Regions from separate parts of the Homo sapiens genome. Here region 1 is linked to region 2. The links come from fine-mapping of genetic effects on gene expression. Tissue or cell type: subcutaneous fat. Region 2 holds a variant in brackets; the other region holds the start of a gene. All regions are shown on one strand. Distances are from middle to middle.

Region 1 (2,500 bases), 36 kb after region 2:
CCCACCCCACCGTGAGTGCAGCAAGGGAGCACCTCAACCCTGCCCTTGGAGGGCCACAGGTCAGCTTGCACCGTCTTCCCACCCAGCACCACTCTGGGTGCCTTTGCTGTCTCCCAAGAGCCCCTTGCCCTTGGAGTTCCCTCATGATGCCCCCCTGCCCCACGTGCAGGTGTCTGACCATCCGGGAAGCAGGGTCGAGGAGCTCCCAGTTGAAGTCCAGTTGCTGAGACGCACCCTGTTTTGGTGTTGCTGGGGCAGGGGGCTGATGGTGGTGCTGAACGGGTTTTAGAGGAGGGTCAGGGTGGCAGCGGATCTGGGGCCCAGCAGCCTTGTTTCTGACCCCAGGCCTGCCACTTCCCATTTAAGTGACCGTGAGTGGCAGAGGTCAAGGCTGGACTCCGGAAACGTGGGTCTGACACTCCTGAGGCCTCCCGGATGGTCCCAGCCGAAAGGACCCAGTGTGGGTCCCTTGGGCCTGGGTTTCCCTGGCTCAGGTGCCCTCAATCCCCAGGCACCCTCAGCTCAGGGCTCCCCACGACCTGGTGGGGGCACAGACCCCGGCGCCATTTCATGGGGTTCCCAGCTCCTGGCGCCCCCGTGCTCTTCTGTGAAATGGGACAGCAAGTGCGCTGATAGGAACGGTGCCTGGGCACAGGGCTGCGCCTGGACACCCTACGCCGTCGCAAGGTGGGTGCCGAGGAACTCGAGCTTCTAACGTGCCAGGGGTCCAAGGACGCGCCAGGATTTTGAGTATTAGGAGAAAAGAAACTCCTGAAATGAAGCCACGTCGCCCCTTCCACTTTAAGGTGCCTCCTGCTGTCGGAGTTTCCAGGCGCACACGGCGCGGCTGCCACTCCCTGAGGAGGAAAGTCGGGAACCGTCCCGCGGGGCCGGTCCCGCCGCTGCTCGTCCTCCTTCTCCACGTCCCCGCCCGGGGCTCCGCCGGCCCGACCCGCGGGGAACCTCCAGCCTCTGAGGACCTCACGCCGCTCGGAGACCCGCACAGCCCGGGTCAGGGCCGGGACTCCGGGCGGACGAGGTCCCCGTGGCGCCCGCACGCTCGCCCCACCCGCTCTTTTGGGCGCCGCGGCCAGGCGGGGGCAGAGTCCGCGCGGTCCCGGGTCCGCCGCGCCCCGCCCCCCCCGCTGCTCCCCTGCCCGCCGCTGCCGTCCCCCCTCCCTCCTCCCCTCCCCCCCTTCTTCCCTTCCCTCCCCCTCCCCCCTCCCCTCCCCGCCCCTAGCCCTCCCCTCCTCCCCTCCCCCTCCCTCCTCCCCTCCCCGCCCCTAACCCTCCCTCCTCCCCTCCCCTCCCCTCCTCACCTCTCCCCTCGTGCCCTCCCCGCCCCTCCCCTCCTCCCCTTCCCGCCCCTCCCCTCCTCTCCGCGCGGGGCGGGCTCCGCGCCACGTGACTCCGCGGCCGGGCCGGGACGCGACGGGACGCGCTGGGACCGGCGTCGGGGGTCGCGGGGACCATGCAGCGGAGGTGGGTCTTCGTGCTGCTCGACGTGCTGTGCTTACTGGTCGGTAAGAGCCTTGGGGACCCGGGTGTTGGGGGGACCCTCCCGGGACGGACACGCCCCCGGCTGCGCGCAAGTTTGCAGGGGAACGCGGAGGCTGCGCGCCCTCGTCCCTCCGAGGACCCTGGAGGCGGGGACCTCGCGTGAGGACCAGACCTCCCTCCGCGCCCCGCACTGCGCGCGCCCTCCCAGGCTCGGGGGTCCCCGCGTCCCAGGCCCAGGGGGATGGGGGTCGCGAGAGGCCCGGGGAGCCGGGGCCAGCATCCCCCGCCCCGGCAGCAGGAAGTCTGTGCGGAGGGGCCGCGCGCGCGCCTCCATCCCGCCCCGCCTGGCCTGGGAGGTGAGTCACGCGGGCCCGGGAGGTGGGGGCGGCCGCGGGTTACCCCGGCAGGACGTCCGCGCCTCCGCCCCTGGGGTGGGCGCTCCCGCTGCGCGCGGAGAGGGCTGACCCTCGGTCCTGGCACCCGGTGCGTCGGCGGGATTCGAACCCGTGCACGTGCGGGGAGGCCCAGCCGCCCTGCTGGCTCGGGCGGGGGAGACACTGGGGATGAAGGCTGGGTCCCAGGCTTCGGGTGAACGGGGTGGCGGGGGGCCGGGAGGCCAGGAGAACCAAACCTGTCCGGCGGGTTTGCGGGCCACACTGGCGGAATGGGCATCCCGAGGCCCCCCTCCCGCAGGGTCCCGGGAACAAAGGCCGAGTGTTTGCTCTGTGGCTGCACAGACAATGGCCCTGGAATTCTATCTCTGGGGGGTGCCCTCCTCCCCAACGTGTTTCCTGCTTCTCTGCCATCTCACAGCAGAGGCCAAGTCCTCTTACCTCCGGAAGGAGACCCTTTTTTAGGGTGGGCCAGGTGACAGCAAGAAGTCCCTGTGGGTGTCTGCCAGCCCGTGGTACCATTTCCTGAGCACCTATGGTGTTATTTATGTAAACATTTAGGTGGCACTTTCTGTATGCCAGGAACTAAGCAACATGCAAATAACAAA
Region 2 (2,836 bases):
GGTAATGGACATACAGAATCTGTTCTTTCCACGGGGTCCTGTGAGAGAACAAAAGGGGGACTCAGTGTAGATATTCCACCTGGAGAAGGGCTGGGACTAGGCTGGGAGGTTTCTATGTGGACTTGAAGCCCCCAGGTTGAGTCTGGGCAGGAGCTGGGGTGGAGGGGAGGCCAGTGCTAACATCTTGAGAGAATGAGAGGGAGTGTTCCGGAAGTTGGAAGCTGAAAGTGACCCACAGGGATCAGCGTGGAGTCTGAGCAGACAGGACTAGCCTCTGTGGAATAGAGGCTCACACAAGGGAGGACAGAAGGATTTGAAAGCAGCACTGGAGAGCATGATGTTGATAGTTCGCATCTCTTCCTTCCCAGGAATTACGTGCCTTATTTATACTTCTTGTCATATTACATTGGCTCAGAGCATCAAAACAGTGTTCGTTAATCACAGTGCTCTTGTTCCAGATCGTGATGGGGGCTGCTCTGGTTACCCATTTTTGACTGAGTGTGAATTGACAGCTTCTCCATTATATTGATGAAGCATCCGTTTACATAGTTTTCTTCTTTTTTTTTATTTTGAGACAGATTCTCACTCTGCCACCCAGGCTGGAGTGCAGTGGTGTGATCTTGGCTCACTGCAACCTCCATCTCCCGAGTACAAGTGATTCTCGTGCTTCAGCCTCTTGAGTAGCTGAGACTACAGGTGGATGCCACCAAGCACAGCTAATTTTTGTATTTTTAGTGGAGACGGGATTTCGCCATGTTGCCCAGGCTGGTCTCGAACTCCTGGCCTCAAGTGATCTGCCTGCTGTAGCCTTCCAAAATGCTGGGATTACAGGTGTGAACTACTGTGTCTGGCCTGTTTATGTAGTTTTCTGAGAGTTCCTTTTTTTTTTTTTTCAAATCAGGAATAGATGTCGGATTTTACCAAATGCCTTTTTCAGATAACTTTTTTCCCCTTTAATATATTGATGTTGAGTTACAATAGTAAATTGCCAGGTGTCGCACCATCCTTGTATTCCTGTAATTCACCCTGTGTCACACCATCCTTGTATTCCTGTAATTCACCCTGTGCAAGGAGGCATTGTGGGCAGGGTGGTGCCCTCTTCCCTGGCCGGTGACCCCTAGGCTCTGGTGCCTCTGAGGGATTGTAAAGGAGCTCTTGGATGAAGGACTGGGCCTGAGGTCTGGCTGGGGAGTGCTGCCATGTGGGGAGTTGCTATGGGTGTGACAGAGTGGCCCTGGTTGTGGCCAGTGAGGCTCAGGCAAGAGGACAGGGACAGGAACCCCCAGAGCCGTCCCTCCTGATGGGGCCTTGTTCCCTTCC[C/A]CAACTCAGAGCAACGACATGCCCTTTGATGAGCTGCTTGCGCTCTATGGCTACGAGGCGTCAGACCCCATTTCAGACCGGGAGAGTGAGGGTGGTGACGTGGCCCCGAACCTCCCAGACATGACCCTGGACAAAGTAAGTGAGGGCCCTTCCTGGAACTGGCTCACAGCTGAAGGTGGGGGGGCCTGGCGCTGCCTCTCTGCAGAGGGGAGTGTTCAGTGAGAGGAGGCACAAAGGCCCCCAGAATAAGTAGAATGTACCTGTGACCACTACCCTGGGGTTGGAATGGCCATGGGCATGGGGCTGGACCCTAGCCTTAACCCCAGGCCACATGTCATTCTGGCTTTGGTGGGTGGAGGGGCACATCGGGGCCTCCCCAGGACTGGTCTCTCTGCCATTCCGTACCCAGAGGTCACAGGTCAAGGCTTGGGTGTTGGGAGCAGGGGCGGGCTGCATTGTAGAAGGTTAAAACCAAATGCACAGTCAGAGAAAGAGCCATGCACTCCGGGCGTGTGCCCAGTGGCAGCTCTAACTGTCTCCAGCTCTGGTGGCTGGGTGTGGGCTCCCACGTGTCTCCTTCCCATCCCCGCTCCCCCCACGCTGTGCACCCTTTGCAGAATGGGAATAGCAGCCCCATGTGAGCCTCAGGGCACTCCCAGTGTCTTTACTGTTGTTATCATTAGTGGTATTGCGAGATTGTTAAACTGTAAAATGTTCTTTACTTTTTTTTTTTTTTTTAAAGGAACAAATAGCGAAGGATTTGCTTTCAGGGGAAGAAGAGGAAGAGACGCAATCATCTGCTGACGACCTCACCCCGTCCGTGACCTCCCACGAGGCCTCCGACCTCTTCCCTAACCGGAGTGGATGTAGGTGACTCTGTCCCCATACTCCACCGCAGCCAGGCCCCCTGCCAGGCAGTCGTGATGCTTGATGAAGGGTCCTTGGGCTGATGCAGGCCAAGAACTCATCACAGATGAGGGCGTCTGCCTGGCGGGAAGCGTCAGTAGCCCTGGGGGTGCTTTGTTCTCCTCCACGCTGGCCAGTGAGCCTGGACTCTCAGAGCGATTTGGTTTAAACAAGTAGGGAACATGTTGGTTCCCCTAGCAGATCCAGGGACAGCATTCCCAGAACCGGCCTCCTTCACAAGCCTCTGTGCTGGCTTTCCTGGGAACTGAGGGCTCGGGGCCCAGAGGTGCAGCAGCTGCATAGAAGGGAAGGCCTCTTTCTTCAAAGGTGCATCCCTGGTCCTGGGTCCTGTGCCCATCTGTTTACCCAATGTCTGGCCAGAGAGAGGGTTATGGCCTGGGGATCAGGTGGATGGAGAATGGGAGTGGAGAGAAGGGGTTGTATAGGCTGCAGGCAGTGGAGACCCTGGGGGACCTGCCTCTGTTTTCCCAAAGCTCGTTTCCTGGCTGATGAAGACAGAGAGCCTGGCTCTTCTGCCTCCTCCGACACCGAGGAGGACTCTCTTCCTGCCAACAAATGTAAGAAGGTACGTGGTTCTGCCATCTCCCCA

What was found. PIP is the estimated chance that this variant, and not a neighbour inherited with it, causes the effect.
Region 1: it holds the start of PLPP2, and the variant in region 2 is fine-mapped to the expression of PLPP2 in subcutaneous fat (GTEx, PIP above 0.99).

The regions. Positions count from the first base shown.
Region 1 is chr19:290,308-292,807 of GRCh38, reverse strand. It overlaps PLPP2 (phospholipid phosphatase 2), which reads left to right and starts at 1,405. Exons shown (of 6, transcript NM_003712.4): 1 at 1,405-1,523. The coding sequence starts at 1,472. RefSeq lists enhancers at 1,511-2,208, 2,239-2,500, 2,209-2,500.
Region 2 is chr19:326,483-329,318 of GRCh38, reverse strand. It overlaps MIER2 (MIER family member 2), which reads left to right. Exons shown (of 14, transcript NM_017550.3): 4 at 1,330-1,455; 5 at 2,063-2,186; 6 at 2,721-2,812. Among named protein-coding and RNA genes, the nearest start is that of MIER2, 17 kb to the left of the region's middle. RefSeq lists a silencer at 944-1,144 and an enhancer at 1,158-1,658. The variant C/A (reference allele first, on the strand shown) is at 1,321.